Linked DNA regions of Homo sapiens. The gene in region 4 interacts genetically with the main gene of each other region. Each region holds a gene or a part of one and is shown on either strand. Other genes may lie near its edges.

Evidence for each region.
Region 1: changes in LEO1 (region 4) and SLC7A6OS together harm fitness more than expected from each alone (negative genetic interaction), as found in Homo sapiens cells (one large-scale study listed by BioGRID).
Region 2: changes in LEO1 (region 4) and SSBP1 together harm fitness less than expected from each alone (positive genetic interaction), as found in Homo sapiens cells (one large-scale study listed by BioGRID).
Region 3: changes in LEO1 (region 4) and FAM50A together harm fitness more than expected from each alone (negative genetic interaction), as found in Homo sapiens cells (one large-scale study listed by BioGRID).
Region 5: changes in LEO1 (region 4) and PPP2R2A together harm fitness more than expected from each alone (negative genetic interaction), as found in Homo sapiens cells (one large-scale study listed by BioGRID).
Region 6: changes in LEO1 (region 4) and NUP54 together harm fitness more than expected from each alone (negative genetic interaction), as found in Homo sapiens cells (one large-scale study listed by BioGRID).
Region 7: changes in LEO1 (region 4) and UBA2 together harm fitness less than expected from each alone (positive genetic interaction), as found in Homo sapiens cells (one large-scale study listed by BioGRID).

What each region holds. Positions count from the first base shown.
Region 1 is NC_000016.10:68,300,947-68,304,446, reverse strand, and holds part of SLC7A6OS (probable RNA polymerase II nuclear localization protein SLC7A6OS), read left to right. Parts: intron 1-214; coding exon 215-421; intron 422-1,937; coding exon of another isoform or gene 1,938-1,945; coding exon 1,946-2,066; exon of another isoform or gene 2,067-2,070; intron 2,071-2,627; exon of another isoform or gene 2,628-3,041; coding exon 3,042-3,172; 3' UTR 3,173-3,500. UniProt on the Homo sapiens protein: Directs RNA polymerase II nuclear import.
Region 2 is NC_000007.14:141,744,858-141,748,357, reverse strand, and holds part of SSBP1 (single-stranded DNA-binding protein, mitochondrial precursor), read right to left. Parts: intron 2,863-3,500; coding exon 2,774-2,862; coding exon of another isoform or gene 2,697-2,773; exon of another isoform or gene 1,021-2,696; intron 1-1,020.
Region 3 is NC_000023.11:154,447,141-154,451,154, reverse strand, and holds the end of FAM50A (protein FAM50A), read right to left. Parts: intron 2,672-4,014; coding exon 2,595-2,671; intron 2,466-2,594; coding exon 2,399-2,465; intron 2,263-2,398; coding exon 2,201-2,262; intron 1,935-2,200; coding exon 1,858-1,934; intron 1,475-1,857; coding exon 1,420-1,474; intron 1,273-1,419; coding exon 1,224-1,272; intron 1,127-1,223; coding exon 1,056-1,126; intron 947-1,055; coding exon 836-946; exon of another isoform or gene 769-835; intron 732-768; coding exon 723-731; 3' UTR 501-722; downstream 1-500. UniProt on the Homo sapiens protein: Probably involved in the regulation of pre-mRNA splicing.
Region 4 is NC_000015.10:51,954,779-51,958,278, forward strand, and holds part of LEO1 (RNA polymerase-associated protein LEO1), read right to left. Parts: intron 1-3,500. UniProt on the Homo sapiens protein: Component of the PAF1 complex (PAF1C) which has multiple functions during transcription by RNA polymerase II and is implicated in regulation of development and maintenance of embryonic stem cell pluripotency.
Region 5 is NC_000008.11:26,368,008-26,371,507, forward strand, and holds part of PPP2R2A (serine/threonine-protein phosphatase 2A 55 kDa regulatory subunit B alpha isoform), read left to right. Parts: intron 1-2,126; coding exon 2,127-2,406; 3' UTR 2,407-3,500. UniProt on the Homo sapiens protein: Substrate-recognition subunit of protein phosphatase 2A (PP2A) that plays a key role in cell cycle by controlling mitosis entry and exit. Involved in chromosome clustering during late mitosis by mediating dephosphorylation of MKI67.
Region 6 is NC_000004.12:76,124,398-76,127,897, forward strand, and holds part of NUP54 (nucleoporin p54), read right to left. Parts: intron 360-3,500; coding exon 252-359; intron 1-251. UniProt on the Homo sapiens protein: Component of the nuclear pore complex, a complex required for the trafficking across the nuclear membrane.
Region 7 is NC_000019.10:34,434,881-34,438,380, reverse strand, and holds part of UBA2 (SUMO-activating enzyme subunit 2), read right to left. Parts: coding exon 3,413-3,500; intron 1-3,412. UniProt on the Homo sapiens protein: The heterodimer acts as an E1 ligase for SUMO1, SUMO2, SUMO3, and probably SUMO4. It mediates ATP-dependent activation of SUMO proteins followed by formation of a thioester bond between a SUMO protein and a conserved active site cysteine residue on UBA2/SAE2.

The DNA.
Region 1 (3,500 bases), on a different chromosome or scaffold from region 4:
TGGGAGGCTGAGGTAGGAGAAACGCTTGAACCTGGGAGGCGGAGGTTGCAGTGAGCCAAGACCACGCCACTGCACTCCAGCCTGGGCGACAGAGTGAGACTCCGTCTCAAAAAAAACTGTAGGGAGCCTTCCTTCACCCAACTCATAGGTTCCTCCTCTTGGAACATCATGTTTTGGGTCATGCGTGTGTGTGTAATCTGTGGTTTCTTTACAGACATCTGACCCAGATGTGATCCTCTGCAATTCTGTAGAGTTGATCCGTGAGCGATTGACTGTGTCTGAGGATGGACCAGGAGTCAGGCGCCAGGAAGAACAAAAACACGATGACTATGTGTATGACATTTACTACTTGGAGACGGCCACTCCAGGCTGGATTGAGAACATCCTCTCCGTGCAGCCCTACAGCCAAGAATGGGAGCTGGTAAGGGGGCCCATGAGCAGACGGGGCATGAGGCATCCTAAGCTCTTAATCTAATCAGAATGCTTTGCTTCCCTGGGCTCCACTCCCGAACAACATTGTCCTTAGTTCTTTTCCTCCTGAAAAGGAAGAAATTATTCTAAGTGCCTTTTAGGAACCTGACTTTATAGTACAGGGAATTTGGGGAAAGATCATCTTAGATTGATCATTTTTACATTAATGAATATTTTACAAGGTTTGCAACATCACCTTTATTGTTTATAGCTATCCATTCTTAGGGGGGAAATATGTATATGGGGCTTATGATAAGATAAAGACGATAAAATCAGAAATTCTTAACATGAGTGACAACAAAATCTATTTTTTAATTCGTACCTTAGAAGTAGAGAAACCTCGGATGAAGAAAGCTAACGTCCTGACATTATTCTTTTTTTTTTTTCTTTTTTGAGACAAGGTCTCACACTGTCACCCAGGCTGGAGTGCAGTGGTGCTATCTGAGCTCACTGCAGCCTCTATCTCCCAGGCTCAAGCAATCCTCCTATCTCAGCCTCCCAAGCAGCCAGCCAGGAGTACAGGCATGCACCATGATGCCCAATTTTTGTTGATTTTTTTGTAGAGGCAGGGTCTCACTATGTTGTCCAGGCTGGTCTTATGGTCTTGAACTCCTGGGCTCAAGTGATCCACCTTGGCCTCCCAAAGTGTTGGGATTACAGGTGTGAGCCACCACACCTAGCTGACACCATTATCTTTTTTTTTTTTTTTTTTGAGATGGAGTCTCGCTCTGTCACCCAGGCTGGAGTGCAATGGTGCAATCTTGGCTCATTGCAACCTCCGCCTCCTGGGTTCAAGCGATTCTCCTGCCTCAGCCTCCCAAGTAGCTGGGACTACAGGTGCATGCCACCATGCCTGGCTAATTTTTGTATTTTTAGTAGAGACAAGGTTTTACCATGTTGCCCAGGCTGGTCTCAAACTTCTGACCTCAAGTGATCCACCCACCTCGGCCTCCCAAAGTGCTGGGATTACAGGCGTGAGCCACCGCGCCCAGCCTATTCTCAAATTCTAAAATGCTTAACAAGAAAACTTAAGGTGGCACCTAATGGTCATGCTCAGACTATAATCAAGAAGCACTGCATCCTGCACCTGCATTAGGACAGATTTGCAGTCAGGTACCCACCTTGGACCACTGCATGGCCCTTCCTCCTGCCTTTCCGCACCTCTTACGCTTGGGTTTTGGTTTTGACCTTTGGAATTTGAAGGAATCGCTCAGAGCCATCACTCCTCTTTTCCCTGTGTTCCCTTCTCATGGGGTCCAGCATGTCCTATCATTGTGGAGCTGGGCTCTGAGTGGAAGGGGGCTATTATCTCCCTCTCATAGCCTCTTGTGCAATGGAGTCAAACTACTAGTCTGCAGTTTTTTCACAGGGCACTTTTACATGATATCTCTTCAAGCTGGTATGCTAACAACTTCCCCCAGAGCATAACCTTAGAGGTTTTGACTTGGACTCATGTTTGTGTTGAGATGTGTAGGTGAATGATGATCAAGAACCAGAGGACATTTACGACGATGAAGATGACGAGAACAGTGAGAATAACTGGCGCAATGAGTACCCAGAGGAGGAGAGCAGTGATGGAGATGAGGATTCCAGAGGTGGGTGGCAGCCCCAGACCGGGAGGGACTGGTAGGATCTGAGACTGAGGTGCAGGCATAGTTGACAGGTGCATCTTAATTGCCTTTCCTTCTCTGTCATTGAGCGCCAGCAGCCCAGCCGCAACTGAGCCATGCTGTAGGAGACCCAAAGACCAGTGTTTCCCAGGGGCCTCCTGGGGGTGTAATAATCCATCAGGCCTGGATTCAAATCTGTAGTTGTCATTACTTTGCTGTGGCTCTTGGGCAGTTACTTCACCTCACTGAGCCTCATTTTCTCTCCAAATGAGATGGTTCTGCATGAATTTTAGTGGTTGAGATTATGTAAAATATGTAGCTCATTGTCTCTTCCCCTGCCCCAGTCAAGAAACCAATGAAGAGAGAGGTTTGCCAGTAGGAATAAGCCCAGAGTTTTCACAAATCAGTTATCTAACTTCTCAAAAAACTGCTGCATGTACAACTGTTTTGAGAAAGATGCAACACAGACATAATACCTGGGGGAAGAAGAAAGATGCTCTGACAACATAATTCCCGTAGTAACTATATTAAAGAAGAGAGAAGAAGGCCCAACAAAAAGAATTTATTGGTGTCTGATAACAGAGAAATGAATCAAACAATTGCATATTCTTTTGGGGAGGTTTGTCAATAACACGTTAAAAGGAGAAAGGTACAAAAATATTTACAATATGACTACAACTCTTACAACAACAAAAAATCCTATACGGAGGGGAGAAGTGACAAAATACTCCACGGAGGGGAGAAGTGACAAAATACTCCAGTGTGAAGGAACTTGGTTTAGATGATAGGAAAGTGATTCCTTCTTTAAAAAAAAAAGAATTCTATATTCTTTTTTATTTATTGAGCAAGGATTTTGCATTACAATCGGGAACAAAAACAGACCTTTCTGAGAAGAGAAGGGGCTCCTGCAGTAGCCTAGGAAAATCACATTTAGAATCCACTCCCGGGATGTCATTCTAGGCTCTGCTGACTACAACAGCCTGAGTGAGGAGGAAAGAGGCAGCAGCAGACAGCGGATGTGGAGCAAGTACCCTCTGGATGTGCAGAAGGAGTTCGGCTATGACAGCCCCCACGACCTGGATTCAGACTGATGGTCTTGTGATGTCCATGAGGTTCTGCCACATGCCCTTGAGGGCTCTGAGTCCAGAGTTAACTGCCCTGCTGACATCCTGTTAGGTTTCCTAGCTTAACATGTGGAAGGAAAAGCATATCAAGCATATCGGGCGGCACCATCCCACCACAGTGAAAACTTATGTTAGGGGAGTGAGTCTTTTCCACTTACAGTAGGACCCCTTTGCCTCAATCAAAAGTGACCCTACAGTTTGAAAGAAAAAAAAACGTTGAAAAAAGGAAGGTTTCTTTAGCTTTAGCTTCTTGGCCCAGGAATTTTTCCTGGCATTCAGGTTCTGTGCTGAAACC
Region 2 (3,500 bases), on a different chromosome or scaffold from region 4:
TAATATAATGTATGAATGTTTATGAAGTTATCAAGGAAATTTGAACACTACGATATTTAGTAAAAAAATTAACAGTAATTTATTAATATTAGGTGTGATAATAGCACGGTAGTTACATTTTCAAAAAGACACCTTATCTTTTAGAGATCCCTATGGAAATTTATGAATAAACTTATGTCTAGAATCTGTTTCAAAATAATCCAGGTGTAGGTCAAGTCGCTGGAGGCATGGATATAACACTGTCCATCAGCTGACACTGAAGCGAAATGGTAGGAGTTCATTTTACCATTTTTTCTGCTCTTATACATGTTTGACATTTTCCATAGTAAAAAAAAAAAAATTTTTTTTTTTTTTTTTTTTTTGAGAGAGTCTTCCTCTATTGCCCAGGCTGGAGTGCAGTGGTGTGATCTCAATTCGCTACAAACACTGCCTCCTGGGTTCAAGCAATTCTCATGACTCAGCCTCCTGAGTAGCTGGGACTACAGACACGCATTACTAGACCCGGCTACTTTTTGCATTTTGTGTAGAGACAGGGTTTCACCATGTTCCCAGGCTGGTCTTGAACTCTTGACTTCAAATGATCCACCCACCTCAGCCTCCCAAAGGCCTGGGATTACAGGCGTGAGCCACTGCATCCAGCCCAAAAATCAATTTTTAAAAAATATTATCTAGCCGGGCACGGTGGCTCACGCCTGTAATCCCAGCACTTTGGGAGGCTGAAGTGGGCAGATCACGAGGTCAGGAGTTCGAGACCAGCCTGGCCAATATGGTGAAACCCCATCTCTACTACAAATACAAAAATTAGCTGGGCGTGGTGGCGCGTGCCTGTAGTCCCAGCTACTCAGGAGGCTGAGGCAGGAGAATCGCTTGAACCCGGGAGGCGAAGGTTGCAGTGAGCCAGGATCGTGTCACTGTACTCTAGCCGGGGCAACAGAGTGAGACGCTGTCTCAAAAAAAAAAAAAAAAAAAAAAAATCTAATTTGGGCATATCTCAGAAGTTCATAAACACAGAAACATTAATATAGTAAAATTTAGTTTATTGCCATGTATTTATTTTAAAAAGCTTTCTTAGTATTTATGTCCATAAAAGCAAACAAAAGCACAAAATTCACAATGTCTAATTTTAGCAATTTACTCAAGAAGTGAAAAAAGCACCATCTATCTCATTTAAAGACATATTTCCAATATAATTTAAATACATTAAAATTGTTTTGATCAATTAGGTACTAAAAACAACTTTAATGATAAGTCAATTGAGAAGAATTTGTCATAGAATTCTTTTAAATATTTTAAAGTTTCTTTTATGCATGCATTTTTGTTACAAACAGGGTAATAAAAAGTTCTTAACTATACCATATACTATTAAGATACACTTCTGAGGGGAAAATAAAAACAGTAAAACAAGTTCAAAGAAAAAAGAATAATGGAAAATTTCCAAATGCTGAACTGGTATTTTTTTACAGGATAGTAGGTATCACATTGCTATGCTATTTAGATTCCATTGATACATTTAAAAATAACACAATTTTGTATTGAAAAAAATTTCTTAATGTCGCTTGCAGACATCCAGAGGGGTATATTATTTTCAAAATTCTTATAGCATTTTCAAAAGTTTAAAAACTCTTTCCTAAGGGATATCTTCTTAATCTTCTTTAACCTTTACGTGTACATCTTTTCTATGTTGTACTGTATTTTGTTTAAAGAGAATATTAGGCCGGGCATAATGGCTCATGCCTGTAATTCCAGTATTTGGGGAGGCTAAGGTGGGAGGATCATTTGAGCCCAGCAGTTTGAGACCAGCCTGGGCAACATGGTGAAACCTCATCTCTACAAAAAAATTGACAAATTAGCCAGGCATGATGGTGTACACCTGTTGTCCCAGCTACTTGGGAGAAGGCTGAGGTGGGAAGATCACCTGAGCCTGGGGAGGTAGAGGCTGCAGTAAGCTGTGATCACACCATTGCACTCCAGCCTGGTTGACAGAGGGAGACCCTGTCTCAAAACAAAAACAAAAAAAGAGAAAATTAAAAACTTCTTGGCTGGGCACAGTGGCTCATGCCTGTAATCTCACAACTTTGGGAGGCCGAGGTGGATGGATCACCTGAGGTCAGGAGTTCAAGACCAGCCTGACCAACATGGTGAAACCCCGCCTCTACGAAAATTACAAAAATTAGCCAGGTGGTGTGGCACGCACCTATAATCCTAGCTACTCAGGAGGCTGAGGCAGGAGAATCACTTGAATCCAGGAGACAGAGGTTGCAATGAGCCGAGATTGTGCCATTGCACTCCAGCCTGGGTGACAGAGTGAGATTCTGGCTCAAAAAAAATAAAATTAAAAAAATCTTAATTTCAAATAGAAATTTCACATACTAAGTACCAAAGAGGTTCCGAATAAATCTGCACACTCACATTAGTGTAATTCTTATCTTGGCATACGCTTCTTCCTGGTTAGGGCTAGATCCTTCCAAAAGACAATACATTCAGAGTTTTTGTAATTCTCAACAATAAGTACTGGGATGGATAATTCAGTTTTAGGCTTTATTCAAAAGTTACTTGTGACTAAAACTGTAAGTATAAAAATAATTTTTTAAAGGAAGGGATAAATGTACAAACTCTTAGCAAGTAGAGAAATAAGAGTTATGGACATCTTCTAGTGAGTTGCCTTAACTCATAAGTACTGGTACTCTTAACCCTAGTTAGTTACAGTGTAGCCAAGCTTTTAAAAAAGAAAAGGAGAAAAAGAAAAAAACAGCTATTTTCACAAGCTTCTTACCAGCTATGATTGTTGTTGCTTGTCGCCTCACATTATTTTTATCCATGTATTCACCATAGTCTATTTTCCCTTCCAAATAAATTCGAGACCTGATATAAATAAAATGTACAGTTTTTAGTTGAGATCTTAATATGCTTTATAAGAGTCAGGTCAGGGTGGTACTGAGTATATGACAAGGATGAAATATATAATCATATATAAGCTAATTTTTGCTACCACTTCTCAAGGTTCAGGATTAGGAGTACTGAAACAGAGTGTCCAAACAGACTTGGTAACATCTAGGTAAAACAGACAATGTTTTCATCTGTCAGCTATTTCTCTTACGGAAGTTAAAAAATAAAACAAAACAGTTCAAAGGGAAATTTAGTGGCAACATTTAAATCTCTAGGAATAATTTCCAATGTATCATTTTCCTTGACCTTTGATTTTGGAGTCCCTAACAGACTTGATTTTCACTTATTTATCAATTATTTTCTATGACCTTAGAAACTTAGATGATTAAAATTCAAAATATGGATTTGTAGTTAGTTTAGTATAATATTACCCTGAGTTAATTACTAAGACTATTTCTACACTGTATCAGCTTAGTATACCACTTAGAGGTAATTACTAAGACTATTTCTACACTATCTAGAGGCTAAACTAGATAACAAACCTAATCGTGATTTTCAAGAGTGGAAAGATGACAATAGTACCAGTTTTGAGAGTCTACCACCACCAAAAAAGT
Region 3 (4,014 bases), on a different chromosome or scaffold from region 4:
AGCACAGGGCACCACAGCAGAACGACTGTGCTGGGACGGCCCACAGCAAGGAAGGCAGGATGGGTTTTCGTGGCCACAGGACGGCCACGTCCCCTACGGGAAACTCAACAGGAGCCCAAGGGCCTGGGAGAGAGGCCTGGGGAGGAACCCCCTTCCCACCCACCAGAGCCACCACCGCCCAAGGACAGGTGCCCACGGTCAAGAAGCACAGTGCCACAAAGACACCTCAGGGATGGTGGGGCTGCCACGGTGACAGACTCCCCAGGCACGTATGACACGTCCAGAACAGGTCAATCCATGGAGACAGAAAGCACATGAGAGCCTGGTGGGGGGATGTGAGGGGAGGAGCCTGCCTATGGCCACAGGGCCTTTGGAGGGATGAGAATGTCCTGGAAGCAGACCAGGGTGATGACTACACAACATGGCAAATGTGCTAAATGCCACCAAATTGTACAGTTTTAAATGGTCAAAATGACAAATGAATTTGGTCCGAACACAAATGGTTTCTCACAATGCAGGCGCTCCAGCTCTGACACGTGCACTTCTTTATTGGAAAAGAATAAAGCAGTCACTGATGTGGCAGGGGCAGGACACGAGCAGCTGCCGTCCTCCTCCCAGCGTGCCTGGCATGGTCGCAGGGGAGCGGGTGCCTGGAGTCCCGGTGACACCACGGGGCACACTGAGGGAGCTGAGGAGCCGGGGCCGCGCAGCCTCCTGGATGCTCAGCGGATCTAGTGTGAGGACAAGGTGGGCAGAGGAGACAAGGAAGGCGAGGGGTGAGCAGGGGCTGGCTGCCGTCCCCAACTTGGAGGGGTCCCTGCCAGCCCCTCCTCACCGTGTACTTGTCCCACTTCTTTTCAGGGTCGTAGGGTTCCCAGCGGCTGGCGGGAAAGATGTGCTTGTTCTTCTCGTACCAGCTCCTCAGCACCACCTTGCCTGCATGGGACTAAGGGAGGAAGAGGGCACAGGGCCGCCTGCTGACCTCCCCTTCCCTTGGCTTCTCCTCCATAGCCCAGGGACACCCGTTCCCCCTCACACGGCCCCCTACGCTGTACCTCATCCTTCTCCACAGTGGCGTCACTGAGCAACCGCACATCGTCATGAACATCAAAGTTGAAGAGTGGTCCTGCAGGGGAGAAGTGACAGCCCAATGTCCCGCTGCTGCCCCAGTGACAACATCGGCGGCAAGGTGCTATGGGGGCGGCTGGGTCGGCGGCACTCACCACTCTTCCCCCGTGCCTTGGTGACGATGAAGTCGTAGAAGCTGTGATGCTGGGAGCCAAGGGCAGGAAAGCGGCGTCTTGATGGTCCATCTCGGCCCCTCCCCACACCCCCCGCCTGCGCACACTGCCCCCACCAGCCTGAGCCAAAGCCCAGGGTGCTGCACCCACTGCGGGTACTGGGGCTGAAGGGACTCACGTGAGGGATGATCAAGTCCTCCTTGATGTACATGAGCTGCTCCACCCCTGCGGACCTGAGGGAGGAAGGCAGGAGGGCGTGGGCAAGAGGACAGCACCCCTGCCCAGGGAGGGAGGAGACAGCCAGCCCAGGAGAGCCCATGCTGGGGCTGGGAAGCAGCGGCCAGTTGGCTGTGAGGGAAGCTCCATGGTTTAGTGAGCACAGGACTGGCGCCCAGCACCCTCCACCTTTGGGCTAAGGAACCAAGGCAGGCCGCTCTCAGCAAAGCTCTCTGGTGGGAGGGAAGGGAAGAGGAGCCTGACCCCCTCTTTTGGGAGGAGAGTGCCCAGCACGCTGCTTGCTTGCCCAGACAGCGCCCACATCACACTGGGTGTCTGGCACCCAGGCTGGAGCCACAGGTGCCACACACACCACCGTGCACACACGCACACCTCACACCTCAGCTCACTGAAGTCTTTCCGAAGGATCTCGAGCGCCTTCTGCAGGAACTGCTGCATGGTGTTGCCCTTTCTCATCTGTATCCGGGAATCCAGGAGTTGGGAAGGGAAGGCGGAAGCCTGCAGAAGGGCTCTCAACAAGGCAGAGGCCCAGAGGGCCCTGCCAGACGCTGCAGAGCCTCAGCCAGGCCTGGGCCTCACTCCCCAGACAGGGGGCCAGGCCCTGGAGCCAGTTATCCTCAGGATCCCTGGGGCTTCCCAAGTCAGGAAGGTCAGTTCCTTCCCACGGAACCTGAGGGAGGCTGGGCCCATGGTGAGCAGGAAGCAGGCTGCACGCTGCCTACCTTGACTGTCCGCCGGTGCCCAGAGCCATCCCAGTAGCTGAAGGTGATCTCGATCTCCTCACCTACAAGGCAGAGCTGCCTCTTGGTCTCCAGCCCCACTGAGAGCAGCCTTGGGGCTCAGCGCACCACCCAGGAGACTGTGGACAGGGAAGCTGGCTTGGGCCCAGGCCCCTCGCGTCTGACTCCGCAAACACTCACTCTTGATCTTCTCCTGCTTGGCTTCCCACTCCTGCCGCAGCTCTTCCCGAAGCCGATTCTCCTCCTCCTGGGAGAGGGAGCAGGCAGACAGGTGAGGCCCAGGGCTGCTCAGGGTGCACGCAGAGCCTGGCTCCCTAAGCAAGGGTCTCCACCAGGGCTGGAGTCGAGGCCGGGGTCAGGGCCAGGCAGCCTTTACCTCACGGTCTCGATCAGGCAAGAAGCTTGTGTCAACGTCTGGGTTCTTCCCCAGTTTTCTCTTCTTCGTGGTGATCTCTGGAACAAAAGGAAGCCGAATATCATAGCATTATTATAAAAATGATTTTGATATGGCCGACGCCCAGGGTCCCCCAAGCATACCTTGAGAACAGTCGATCTAGAAGACAAGCCTAGGGCGGGCACAGAGGCTCACGCTTGTCAACCCAACACTTGGGGAGGATGAGGCAGAAGGATCACTTGAGCCCAGGAGGTGGAGACCAGCATGGGCAACATAGCAAGACCTCGTCTCTACTAAAACTCAAAAAAATCAGCCGGGTGTGGTGGCGCACCTGTAGTACCAGCTACTCAGAAGGCTGAGGTGGGAGGATCGCTTGAGCCTGCGAGGTCGGGGCTGCAGTGAGCCGTGATCAAACCACTGCACTCTAGCCTGGGCAACAGAGTGAGACCTCATCTCAAAAAAAAAAAAAAGAAAGAAAAAAAAGAAAAGAACAACAAAAAAAGACAAATCTAAACTCTTTAGCCTGATGCTCAAGGGCAGAGATTCTAGAGCCTGGGGTCTTGTGGCTGGGCCCCCTAAACGGAACCTGTGGAGGGAGGGAAGAGCCCACCAAGCAGTGTTTTGTAAAAGCCCCAGTGACACACAGTGAGGGTGACAACCTTTCCCCCAGGCCTGCACTGTCCACGCCAGTAGCTCCCAAGTTCGAGACCAGCTTGGGCAACATGGCGAGATTCCGTCTCTACAAAAAATACAAAAATACAAAGCGCCTGTAGTCCCAGCTACTCAAGTGGCTGAGGTGGGAGGGTCCCTTGAGTCCAGGAGGTCAAGGCTGAAGTAAGCTGTGATCGCCCCTCTGCACTCCAGCCTGGGCCACAGGGAGACACTGTCTCAAAAACAACAACAACCAAAACAAAAACACAAACACAAACCAGTAGCTCCCGCTGCACACAGCACCCCAGCATTGCAGCTAGTGCGCCTGCCGCAATGGTGATATTTTGGATACGCTGGGTTAAATACAATGTCATACTAAAATCCTGCTTGTTTCTTTTTCTATGTTTTACTGTGGCTGCTGGAACATGGAACCCAAATGGCAGGTGGCTGGCAGGTTCTTCCTCCCTACAATCCTGCACTCCCCTCAAAGCCATGGCACCCAGCCTGTTACCACAGCCACACAGCACCATCCCCTGCCTCGCTTCTCTCCCTCTGCCATTCCCTGGGTGACACAATTTCCAGAACTGCCACCACACCCTCCAGGGGCCCGTGACACAACTTGCTCCCAATCTTCAAACGTTTTGAAAAGCTCTTTCCTGCTGGGCTTCTGGCATGTACTTTCTCGTCGCCCCTCCTGCCTCTCTGGCGAATGCAACTCCCCTCATCCTTAGGGCCTAACTCAACCCTCCCC
Region 4 (3,500 bases):
GTGAATTTCTGAGCTCCTAGAATCATAATCATAGAGAAAGCTTAGAGCATTTGAGCAGATGGCAGATACTAAATGTACACTAACCCCGAGATGTGTTAAGACAGTAAGAATTACAAGGGTCAGGCGATAAAACTTGAGTCCATGTGAGGCAGAAATTTTTTTTTTTTTTTTTTTTTGAGACGGAGTCTTGCTCTGTCGTCCAGGCTGGAGTGCAGTGGCGCAGTCTTGGCTCACTGCAAGCTCCGCCTCCCGGGTTCACGCCATTCTCCTGCCTCCGCCTTCTCAGTAGCTGGGATTACAGGCGCCCACCTCCAAGCCCGGCTAATTTTTTCATATTTTTTAGTAGAGACAGGGTTTCACCGTGTTAGCCAGGATGGTCTCGATCTCCTGACCTCATAATCCGCCCGCCTGGGCCTCCCAAAGTGCTGGGATTACAGGCGTGAGCCACCACGCCCGGCCGAGGAAGAAATTTTGAAGTGAAACCCCTGTATAAAGCAAGTTCTCTCACAGAGCTAAAAACTCCATAAAAATGAGACCAAAAACTCTGCCTATTGGCACAGAGAGATAAACTTCCCATATATGAATAAGGATAAATAAGTGCCCTATGAAAATGAAAACCCCAGATTTCAATAGGTTTAGAGCCTAACTATCTTACCTGCATGGTGGGGAAACACCAGAGTTGGCAAATGAAAACCACTGTTACTGAAAGTAAAGTCAGTGGGATCTCCAGGAAAACATGGCATACTAAACGCATGCAGTTTATCACTGCTGCCTCCTGGAAACCCACTAAAATGACAATGAAGAGTAAAAACAGGACATACAAGGATAGAAAGAATGAGAATGAAGCTGGCAACAGACAGAAGCCAACAATGTGAAAACTGCCAATGCCAAGACCATGCTTCCCTCTGCCTGTTCCCCCAGTGTCAATCCTAAACACAGCTGCTCCCAGTCCCACGGAGATCGTCTGGATCTCCACTCCTTTAGCTGCAAATGTCTGTGCAGCTGGGTCCTAATGATTCCCCCTTCCAGTTTTTCCCCTTTCCCTATTTATTCCTCACAAATAGCTATAAAGTGTGCTGATTGAATAACTCCATCATATTTATGAATTAAACATGATGTCATACCTGAAATTTGTTTCAGAATAGTCTGGGGAAGCTGGGGTGGGGAATATGTAGATGACAAAAGATTGTTAACTCGACAACTGTTGAAGTGGGTCATGGGCACATGAAAGAGTTCATTATATTGTTTTTAATACATTGGTGTATGTTTGAAATTTTCAGATTGAAAACAAAACAATCTGTCACTATTCCTGTCTTCCATCTCATACAATAGGTTGGCCACATATAAATACACAAATATGCCGGGTGCAGGGCTCACACCTGTAATCCCAGCACTTTGGGAGGCCGAGGCAGGCAGATCACCTGAGGTCAGGAGTTCAAGACCTACCTGGCCAACACAGTGAAACCCCATCTCTGCTAAAAATATACAAAAATTACCCGGGCATGGTGGCATGTGCCTGTAATTCCAGCTACTCGGGAGGCTGAGGCTGGAGAATTGCTTGAACCCGGGAGGCGGGGGTTGCAGTGAGCTGAGATTGCGCCACTGCATTCCAGCCTGGGCGACGACAGAGCAAGACTCCATCTCAAAAAAAAAAAAAAAAAAACCACAAATAGGCCATTATTAATTGAGAAGCCGTTCTAAAAAATGCTTTCTATTATATAAAGTGATTCAAATAGTAATGATGCTATAATAGGACACATTGCTAGGTCTTAACCTATCAGGATGAAGGACACATAATAGTATTTCTGAAGACAGGGGACCTCAGAGAGGTACATAAGCTGTACCTGGTTCCCTGGTTCCTTGTTCTTAAAGAATTAACTACACCATGCTTTAAGACTGGTCAGCGTAGTCTTAAACATCACTCAAGAAAATAAGGGTCCAGGGTTATTTCCTATCACACACCAAGGTTTTAAGACAACAGTTTATGTTAAACACCAACATTTTGTAGTCTGATGCACTGAAATTTTAGGGTAAAATACATATTTATAAATTTTTTTTTGGGGGGGAGACAGGGTCTCGCTGTGCTGCACAGGCTGGAGTGCAATGGCACAATCACAGCTCACTGCAGCCTCAAACTCCTGGGCTCAAGCAATCCTCCCGCCTCAGCCTCCTGGAGTAGCTGTGACTATGGGCATGCGCCATCTCTGCTGGCTAATTTTTTTTTATTTTTAGTAGAGACAAGGTCTTGCTCTGTTGCTCAGGCTGGTCTGAAACTCCTGGCCAGTCTTCTCACCTCGGCCTCCCAAGGTACTGGAATTACAGATATGCGGCACCATGCCCGGCCTTTGAAGTCTGACACCCATACTAGAATCTGGTATCACATGGTCTAAAAATATAATAGATATATTGATACTAGCTGTAGCATCATGACAGAAAGTAAGAAAAAGGAAAAAGACAAAATTAAATAAATTGATAAAAAGTGAATAAGGAACTACTATATTAGTTTATATGTATATGACAGGAAACAATGAAAAGTAGTAGAATTAAAGCCAGAGGCACTAAAACAACCATGAAAAATTGATACTGCTAAGCCTAAATCAATACATCCATGTGTCCCAAAGAAATAATATTAACAGATGGGCTAATAAACAGATGAGTAGATGGGTGGTGGAGGGAGGACAGGAAAAAAAAATAGTGTAAGCAGTATATCTGTTGACTGTGTGATCTTGAACAAATTATTAGCACCTGTTTATCTCAGTTTTCTTATTTGATTTGCATTTCCATTAAGAGGAGTAGTGAAGTCTCACTGAAAAGCTTTTGGATAGAAACCATCTTATATCAAGGTTATTTAGGTAGTTGTTAATATACCACATTGAAGAGATGGTACTATTAAAAATATAAAAATTCAGTGCCTAAAAAATGCCAGACTATCCCTTTCTAACAATTTAATAAGGTACCAAGGCCAGGCGCGGTGGCTCACACCTGTAATCCCAGCTCTTTGGGAGGCCGAGGTGGGTGGATCACCTGAGGTCAGGAGTTCGAGACCAACCTGGCCAACATCGTGAAACCCTGTCTCTACTAAAAATACAAAAATTAGCTGGGCATGGTGGTGCATGCCTGTAGTCTCAGCTACTTGGGAGGCTGAGGCAGGAGAATCACTTGAACCCAGGAGGCAGAGGTTGCAGTGAGCTGAGATCATGCCACTGCCCTCCAGCGTGGGCGACACAGCGATGCTCCTTCTCAAAAAAAAATATATAAATACCCACTAGAAAATAAGAAATTTACAGGAAATCCTTCGGATTTAAGAATTGAAAATGCATAATTCCAGTTTCAGTATCATGCATTCAACCACCTCTTGTTCCCTTGTGCAACTCAATTCTAAAATGTCTACTTGGCCAAGTGCAGTAGCAATCATGCCTGTAATCCCAGCAATTTGGGAGGTCAAGGCGGGAGGATCACTTGAGCTCAGAAGTTCAAGATCAACCTGGGCAACACAGCAA
Region 5 (3,500 bases), on a different chromosome or scaffold from region 4:
AGATTCAGGCTATACATTTTTGGCAGGAATACCACAGAAATGCTGGCCTAATGATACCTTTTTAAAGTTTCAAGTAGCCACAGCCTAGGTGTCCTAATACATTAAAACCACGCAAACTCAGATGATATGGGGATGTCAATCTAAATTACACAAGCCATTTTTAAAGAAATACAGTTTTGTCATCTTCAGGGGCACGCATTACCTTGAGTTTGATTAAAGTTGTTGCCAAGTGTCCTTTGGGAATTGACATTACTAAATAGATAATAATTTGTACTCAGTAGGTGACCTTTGTATGTAAGTATTACTTTGAACAATTCCCCAGTATCCTGTAATCCTTATTTACAATAATAATTTGAACCATTGGTAAGCAGCGGTAGCAGACCCTTTCCAAATTAAGAGCTTCAAACTTACGAAGTTTTGTTTGTGAGGATACTTAATAAATGTCGAGCAGTAATGGGTGGCAAATAGAACTGACAAGGAAGTGTCTTGGGCAGTTTAAAAATTTTGCCACCCCTTTAAACTGATACTTTTATAAATATTTGCTTAAAATGTTCTAAGTGGTAAAAGTAAAATGATGTTCTGTTAAGAAAATATTACAGCCTGGGCAACATAGCAAGACCCTGTCTCTACAAAATATTTAAAAATTATCTGGACATGGCAGCATATGCCTGTAGTCACAGCTACTCAGGAGACTGAAGTGCAAGGACTGCTTGAACCCAGGAGGTTGAGGTTGTGGTTGCAGTGAGCTGTGATTGTGCCACCACATTTCAACCCGGGTGACAGAGTGAAACCCTGTCTTGAAAAATACATATATATAGGCCGGGCACGGTGGCTCACGCCTGTAATCCCAGCACTTTGGGAGGCCAAGGCCGGCGGATCATGAGGTCAGGAGATTGAGACCATCCTGGCTAACGTGGTGAAACCCTGTCTCTACTGAAAATACAAAAAAAACTAGCCGGGCGTGGTGGCGGACGCCTGTAGTCCCAGCTACTCAGGAGGCTGAGGCAGAAGAATGGCATGAACCCAGGAGGCAGAGCTTGCAGTGAGCCGAGATCGCACCACTGCACTCCAGCCTGGGCAACAGAGCGAGACTCCGTCTCAAAAAAAAAAAAATTATACACACACACACACACACATTATGTACCACTTAATATTCTCAGGAGCAGATTATAACATAAGCATTTATTAAATGTGATTATCTGAACCAGACAATACCCTGAGAAGATTATTTATTTATGAGACAGAGTCTCACTCTGTCACCCAGGCTGGAGTGCAGTGGCACAATCTTGGCTCAGTGCAACCTCCGCCTCCCGGGTTCAAGGGATTCTCCTGCCTCAGCCTCCTGAGTAGCTGGGACTACAGGCACGTGCCACTACACCCAGCTAATTTTTTTTTTTTTCCGAGACGGAGTCTTGCTCAGTTGCCCAGGCTGGAGTGCAGTGGCACGACCTTGGCTCACTGCAAGCTCCACCTCCCGGGTTCACACCATTCTCCTGCCTCAGCCTCCCGAGTAGTTGGGACTACGGGTGCCTGCCACCACGCCAGGCTAATTTTTTTTGTATTTTTAGTAGAGACCGGGTTTCACCATGTTAGCCAGAATGGTCTCGATCTCCTGACGTCGTGATCTGCCCACCTTGGCCTCCCAAAGTGCTGGGATTACAGGCGTGAGCCACTGCGCCCGGCCCAAAAAATGTAAATCATAAGATAAAGCATTGGTTTCTTGTGAACAGCTACAGCTACTTCATGCGGGGTTCTTTTGTTTTAGAACCTGTGAGTTCCACAGATAGTTGCTCCTTTGAGAAGCTGGCTGGCCTGGTTGATCACATAGCCTGTAGTTGCAAAAATACTTAACAACGATAATTCTGCACTCCTAAGAAGTTTTACTTGAGGATGCTGTCAACTTTGCTGATAGTTTTGGTAGCCATAAAAAGAATAAGCAGAAAACCCAGTTAATTAGTACCGTATTTCTGGTTTATTCTAGTGATTGAGTTGATGTCAACAGCCCCTGTCCCTTAGTTTAAATCTGCTTTTGAAGTAGCTTCCTATGGTTTAATTGCCGAATCATTTTACTTGAAAACAATTTCTTGTTCTGCTTGTTTGACTGAGTGTACTGTCTATTTTCACAGTGTTGTCATGACTGGATCTTACAATAATTTCTTCAGAATGTTTGACAGAAACACAAAGCGAGACATAACCCTAGAAGCATCGCGGGAAAACAATAAGCCTCGCACAGTTCTGAAGCCTCGCAAAGTCTGTGCAAGTGGCAAGCGAAAGAAAGATGAAATAAGTGTTGACAGCCTAGACTTCAATAAGAAAATCCTTCACACAGCCTGGCACCCCAAGGAAAATATCATTGCCGTAGCTACTACAAACAATCTGTATATATTTCAAGACAAAGTGAATTAGGGTTGGCATTCCTAGCAGAAGAACCCACTTCCTGCTTAGTTGAGATAGTTGAATCTAGCATTCGTTCCTATAAAAGAGAGAGGTCCATTGTGGCGCCCCTTTCCAGTGTTTGACAGTGTGCCATTCGACAACACATTGTTATAGCTACATGGAGAAAGCTCTGTGGATTCATCACTGTGGTGTTCTCCATGTCTGCTAGCCATTTAGGTAAGGGTAGGGCACTTTTAATTTAAATGACTTCTTGCACCATCTTGCCTAATGGACTAGATTGGACTGTATCAACATTGATTTACTCCACTTTTTATGCCTTCCATTGTGATGACGTCAAACACAGTGAAAGCCTTCAGTCATGCTATGGGATTTAATTGTGTATCCTCATTACTGTATCATTTGTGGGGTACACCCCTTCCCCCTTTTTTTAAATTAAATACAGCTCATTCTTACTGTGGCTTGTAGCATTCCTCCTCTTCTGGCCTCCTGGACTGCTCCCCTTCATCTCTTACCCTTGCCCCCTCCACCCGGTCTTGGTGGTGGTATATTAAAAAAAGAAAGAATGAAAGCACACAAAATGAGTCAGTTTGGGGTCAGTGGTATAAAGGGGGTATATGTTGCAAACAAATGTTTTAGTAACAGTTGGCTGTAATCACTCCTCGCCGTGTCTGGCACTGAAAATAAGGAAAAAAAACCTACTACTGAATAAAAGTGACAAAGAATGGAGAATCTGGTTTTCTTTTTCTTTTTAACCTACCTCTTGTAGCCAATATTTTGTGTCATACCTTTGGGCACAGTGAAACAAAATGGGTTTTCATTGTTTATTGGTATTTTTGTTAATTATTTTTAACAAGTGTTCTTTTACATGCAGGAGGAGAGGTATTGGTTCTCTATGAACATATTTTGAATATAGGTTTTATTAAGGATTTCACAATCTATAAATGCTACTAGTTTTTTTTTTTTTTTTTACCATCATGAGGGTATTGGATACATTGTGTCTCTATTTAACTCATTATGTGTTAATGAAATTGTTGTAAATGGGAACCAAATTTGTAGAACTTAATTTCTACTTTTTAGAGTGCTTAATTTCATTTTTGCCTTAC
Region 6 (3,500 bases), on a different chromosome or scaffold from region 4:
GCTTTATTTCTTCACTGCTTTCCCTCAAACTGTCACTAAAATACGAACTTTAGGATATTTTTATTCTCCTCACTCAAACCTATGAGACTTGTTTTCCAATTTCAAAGTTTTACTGAAAGAATTCGGTACTTGTAATTTCACATTATTCTTTCATTTTAGTATTTTTTTTTCTATTTTAAAAATCTATATTTAGTACATTATTTCACACACATAGTCTTATAAACACTGGGGGGGAAAATCCAAATTACTACCTGTAAAGTTCTATGGGAAAGATCCATGAGTTTCCTCTTGTATTGTGCAATTTTGGCTACAGATGTAGTTTGATTCTTTTGTAGCTCACTAATATCTTCAGATATGATCTGTTTAAAAAAAAATTGGGGGGGGGAGGGTTAATCAAATATCACAACTATTTATCAGTTACACCTGTATGGAAATTCTAATCTTGGGATAAGCCTGAGATTCATCTCTCAAAATATAAACTCTTTCCCTATAAATCTGTGCTTTATATTTCTTCCCTTTTTACATACCTAAAATTTTTTTAAAAGAATCATGCAAAGATATCTTTAGAGCTCTAGGAAATTTAGCAATGAGGCAATACATAGAAAAAATAAGCTGGGCGTGGTGGCTCACACCTGTAATCCCACCACTTTGGGAGGACGAGGCAGGCAAATTACTTAAGGTCAGGAGTTCAAGACCAGCCTGGCCAACATAGTGAAACCCCGTCTCTACTAAAAATACAAAGAAGTAGCTGGGTGTGGTGGCATGCACCTGTAATCCCAGCTACTTGGAAGGCTGATGCAGGAGAATCACTTAAACCTGGGGGATGGAGCCGAGATCGTGCCACTGCACTCCAGCCTGGGCAACAGAGTGAAACTCCATCTCACAGAAACAAAAAACAAAAAACAGAGTGAGACTCCATCACACACACACACACACACACACACACACACACACGGCTGGGCACAGTGGGTCACTCCTGTAATCCTAGCACTTTGGGAGGCCAAGGCAAGAGGAGTGCTTGAGACCAGGATTTTGAGACAAGCTTGGGCAAAATGGCAAGACCTTGTCTCTACAAAAAATATAAAAAATTAACCAGGTGTAGTGCTACATGCCTGTAATCCCAGCTCCTTAGGAGGCTGAGGTGGGAGGATCACTTGAGCCCAGGAGTTTGAGGTTGCAGTGAGCCGTGATCATGCCACTGCACTCCAGCATGGGCAAGAGGGAGAGGGAGAGGGGGAGAGGGGGAGAGGGGGAGAGGGAGAGAGGGGGAGAGAGGGAGAGAGGGAGAGGGAGAGAGGGAGAAGAGGGAGAAGAGGGAGAGAGGGGGAGAGAGAGGGAGAAGAGGGAGAGAGGGGGAGAGGGGGAGAGGGGGAGAGAGGGAGAGAGGGGGAGAGAGGGAGAGGGAGAGAGAGGGAGAAGAGGGAGAAAGGGGGAGAGAGGGAGAGAGGGAGAGAGGGGGAGGGGGAGGGAGAGAGAGAGACAGAGAGAGAGGGAGAGACCTATCTCAAAAGGAAAAAAAGAAAACACATACTTCAGAAATAATTAAGGAATCTGAAGTAACATGGAATACAGCCAACAACCAGGTCTGAGTGGAAAAAGTTAAGATGTGTAAGATGATATCTAGGGGGTGTCTTAATAGACAATTAGCCCTGTATCTAACTACTGACAGCAAGTACAGTACATTTCAACATTAACTGTTACAGAATACTTGGAGGGAGTAATCAGAGTGCAGAGGAAAAGGAATGATATTAATTATGCAGCAGGATACATTTTTATGCCTCTGGATCTTTGACTTGCTGTTTTACCTGACTGAAATCCCACTATTCTGCCTTAGGAAGTCTTAACCTTACAGGGTAGGTTAAAATCTCACTATTTTATTAAAGCATCCCAATCAGAATTAATCCCATAATTGTCTCTATCATAATTAATCATTCTATGCCACTGGCTTACATTTACATGTTACAAGAAAGAGGTTAAGATTGTGCAAGACATATTTTAGCACATCCACCTGCACACATCACCTTTTACAGAAACTTTCCAATGCCAGGCCATGCTGAAAGGACAAAATTAGGTGGCCATGTTTTATATTACAAAACCTAGGCAATCTCCCCATCCCAATTTTGAAAAATCACCAGGGTTTTTAGATACAAGAGTACTTACAACATTATTTTCTACCAGTAATAACTAAAAAAATTAGACATGTTATCAGCCACAGTATTTATTAACAAATACTAAAACCATCTAGGAATTGATCCAAGAAAGCCATCTAGGAATTGATCCAAGAAAGAACGCATGAGATTTTAAAAGGGAATATTTTAAAATTATTTTAAAGGACATAAAAGACTGCAAGGATTAAAGAGACATACCACATTCATGGATGAAATGATTTAATATTAAAATTCAATTCCCACAAATTAGTCTTTGCATTTAATGCAATTCCAACCATAATTCTAGCATTCTGACAAATTGATTCTAAAGTTTTTATGGAAGAATAAAGACCCATAAAGACCCAGAAAACTTTGAAAAGAAGAACCAAGATTAGAGATTCATGCTACTAGATATTAAGATACACTACAAAGCCATAAGACTAAAAAAATGTGGAATGGGTGGGTATAAGAACAGACCAACTGGCCAATGAAACATAAGAGAGGGTCTAGAAATAGATCACATATATATATGCAAACAGTGTAATTTAAATTCTTTGATAATCATTGAGGAATATCATATTTTTATAGGCAATATTAAAAATATAGGGCTGGGCGCAGTGGCTCACGCCTGTAATCCCAGCACTTTGGGAGGCCAAGACGGGTGGATCACGAGGTCAGGAGATCGAGACCATCCTGGCTAACACGGTGAAACCCCATTTCTACTAAAAATACAAAAAATTAGCCAGGCGTGGTGGTGGGCGCCTGTAGTCCTAGCTACTTGGGAGGCTGAGGCAGAACAATGGCGTGAACCCAGGAGGCGGAGCTTGCAGTGAGCCGAGATTGCGCCACTGCACTCCAGCCTGGGCGACAGAACGAGACCCCCATCTCAAAAAAAAAAAAAAAAAAAAAATGGACCCACTATTTAGAGAAAAATAAATCTGAGTTCATACCACATACTTTATATAAAGGTAAACTTCATGATGACAACAAAAGACTCAAACGTGAAAGGTTAAACTCTAAATTTTTTTTAATGTAGGATACTCTCAGACTTTGGGGTGAAAAATTATTTAAGCAAATTCCCAAAAAGAAAATACAAGGCAAACATTTAATGGATATCATTACATTAAAATTAAGGATTTCTCTTCAACTACAGACACCAAAGACAGAATTAACAAAGAGATGAGAAACTAGAAGATATTTACAACGTTATAAACAGAGACTACAATCTAGAGTAAATGATTACTGAAGTTCAATAAAGAAAAAATAGGAAGCCCAGTGGAAACACTGGCCAAAGATATGAATGATTTCAGTTCTGGACAAGATGGACTAAGCATATACAACCCCAATCTCTCC
Region 7 (3,500 bases), on a different chromosome or scaffold from region 4:
ACACCTGAGTGTCAAATATGAGTTTACCTTGATCACACTAAACAGAAAAACTACTGGAAAGACAAACAGCAGCTTTCCAAGAAATTATTTCTCAAAGTTGTAAATGTTATCTAAATATTATTCGCAGCCATTTTCTTATATGTGTTTTTTTTTTTTTTTTGAGCAAAACTAAGTGGGTCTGGGGAATACAGCCATATCCTTATAATCTCCTGAAATTAAGTAAACTACAAGATTAATTTCAAGATATATCTCCCTACACAGAAAAATCTTAGGTGTTACTAAACCAAATACTCTTCATTTTATTGATATACGTTTCTTTTTGGCGGTGGGGAGACGGAGTCTTGCTCTGTCACCCTGGCTGGAGTACAGTGGCATAATCTTGGCTGCAATCTCCGCCTCCCAGGTTCAAGCAATTCTCCTGCCTCAGGCTCCCAAAGAGCTGGGATTACAGGCATCTCCCACCACTCCCAGCTAATTTTCATATTTTTAGTAGAGACGGGGTTTTTCCATGTTGGCCAGCTTGGTCTTGAACTCCTGACTTCATGTGATTCGCCCGCCTTGGCTTCCCAAAAGTGCTGGGATTACAGGCGTGAGCCACTGCGCCCAGCCCATTTTATTGATACACATTCAAGTTTAAAATTACAATTTAAGGAATTTATGCCTTGGAAGAAGTACATGACACCTGAGACAACTTTTCAAAACTATCAAATGAATCATCTTTCATTATCTCAGATATTCCTAACCTCAGTCTCTTCTTTTTTTCTTTTTGTCTGAGACGGAATTTCGCTCGTTGCCCAGGTTGGAGTGCAATGGCGTGATCTAGGCTCACCACAACCTCTGCCTCCCGGGTTCAAGTGATTCTTTTGCCTCAGCCTCCCAAGTAGCTGGGATTACAGGTGCGTGCCACCACACCCAGCTAAATTTTGTATTTTTAGTAGAGATGGGGTTTCACCATGTTGGCCAGGCTGGTCTCGAACTCCTTACCTCAGGTGATCCGCCCGCCTTGGCCTCCCAAAGTGCTGGGATTACAGGCGTAAGCCACCATGCCCAGCCACCTTCAGTCTTAATACACAGTGGTGTGTCAGAATCACAGTAACAAGGATATAAAAAGCAATGTCTGGCCGGGCGTGGTGGCTCATACCTGTAATCCCAGCACTTTGGGAGGCCAAGGCAGGCGGATCACCTGAGGTCAGGAGTTTGAGACCAGCCTGGCTAACATGGCAAAACCTCATCTCTACCAAAAATGCAAAAATTAGCCAGGCTAATTGTTCAAGAATCAAAACTCTCAAATACTGTTTTAATATAAATTGCAGCAGATTTAGAGTTTTCTCTGAAACACCATTTCTGATGCCCTCAGCCTTCCAATATGCTTTCTTGAGGGTAGCCACATGGCAAGCAGTCATGAGACTCATACTGCAATGCAGACAGAGAACTTCCGTCTTGATCTGTCAACAGATACTGAAGGCCTCCACTTATTCAACAACTTAATACGCACTGACATACACAACAGTCTTTTGTAGAATGGTATTCAATAAGGTTCCAAGAATAACATTTAACAGTTAAAAGAAACAAAGACACAATTTCTAACATGAATAAGCTGCCAAAAAAAATTAGACGCAACCAGCAAATGTTAAGTACATTATAATTCTCTTTCTATAGTTTCAAAACATGGAAAACGACTCTTCAAATGTAACTACAATATTTAACTTCTTAAAAGAACTGAAAGAAAAAATATCTGAATAGCAAATGAAGCCGTGTTGAGGTTTTAAAAACTGAGATATGTGCCAGGCATGGCGGCTCACACCTATAATCCCAGCACTTTGGGAGGCCGAGGCAGGTGGATCACCTGAGGTCAGGAGTTGAAGACCAGCCTGACCAACATAGAGAAACCCCGTCTCTACTAAAAATACAAAATTAGCCAGGCGTGGTGGCGCACGCCTGTAATCCCAGCTACTCGGGAGACTGAGGCAGGAGAATCGCTTGAACCAGGGAGACGGAGGTTGCGGCGAGCTGAGATCGCGCCACTGCACTGCAGCCTGGGCAACAAGAGCGAAATTCTGTCTCAAAAAAATAAACAAATAAATAAATAAACCAAAACAAAACTGAGGTATGAGCACACAGGTATTTTGTTCTATTATTCTCTAGTTGTATTTAAATGTTTGAAGTACTTCACAAATACACCCCTAAAAAGTTTTCAAAGTTCCCTTCCACATTATAAGCCCAGACTCTTAGACAACAGAATTTTTTGGTTTTTTTTTTTTTGAGACAGAGTTTCGCTCGTTGCCCAGGCTGGAGTGCAATGGCGTGATCTCAGCTCACCGCAACCTCCGCTTCCCCGGTTCAAGGGATTCTCCTGCCTCAGCCTCCCAAGTAGCTGGGATTACAGGTGCACACCACCACGCCCGCTGATTTTTGTATTTTTAGTAGAGACAGGGTTTCACCATGTTGGACAGGCTGGTCTCAAAATCCTGACCTCAGGTGATCCGCTCGCTTCGGGTTCCCAAAAAGTGCTGGGATTACAGGCATGAGCCATCACGCCTGGCTTTTTTTTTTTGAGATGGAGTCTCACTCTGTTGCCCAGGCTGGAGTGTGGTGCCATCTTGGCTCACTGTAACCTCCACCTCCGAGGTTCAAGCAATTCTCATGCTTCAGTCTCCCAACTAGCTGGGATTACAGGTACACGCCTCCACACCCAGCTAATTTTTGTATTTTTTGTAGAGACGTGGTTTCACTACATTGGAGAGGCTGGTCTCGAACTCCTGACCTCAAGTCATCTGCCTACCTCAGCCTCCCAAAGTGCTGGGATTACAGGCATGAGCCACTGCACGCAGCCGACACAAAGAAATTTTTGATGCCTGGTATATCATGCTTACCACTCTAAGGATTTTAATACAAAAGTCAAATGAAACAAAATGGCAGAGCTGAAAGATTTCCTTGCCCATAGTCTTTTGAGCACGTTTATAGCATTTTAAGTTTGTTTTTTGAGACAGAGGCTTGATCTGTAGCCCAGGCTGGAGGGCAGTGGTGCAATCTCAGCTTACTGCAACCTCTGCCTCTCAGGTTCAAGTGATTCGCCTGGCTCAGCCTCCCAAGTAGCTGGGATTACAGGCGCCGGCCACCATGTCCAGCTAATTTTTGTATTTTTAGTAGAGATGGGGTTTCACCATGCTTGCCAGGCTGGTCTCAAACTCCTGACCTCAGGTGATCCGCCCACCTCGGCCTCCCGAAGTGCTGGGATTACAGGTATGAGCCACTGCACCTGGCCCCGCATTTTAAGTTTTATATAAGCATAAAAGTCCTTACATTTTGGATGTTCACCTGTTCATTTTATATAAATACAAAGTTTATTTCCTCCTGCTCCAAGGTCTCAAATAAATATTTGGGAAGTTAAAAAAATAAAACTTTTCTTTACCTTTTTGATAGTAGTTACTTGTCCAAGATACCCAGCTGTTCCACTTTCAATAAGAGGAACATCAGCTGCCAGGCACATTCTATTAACA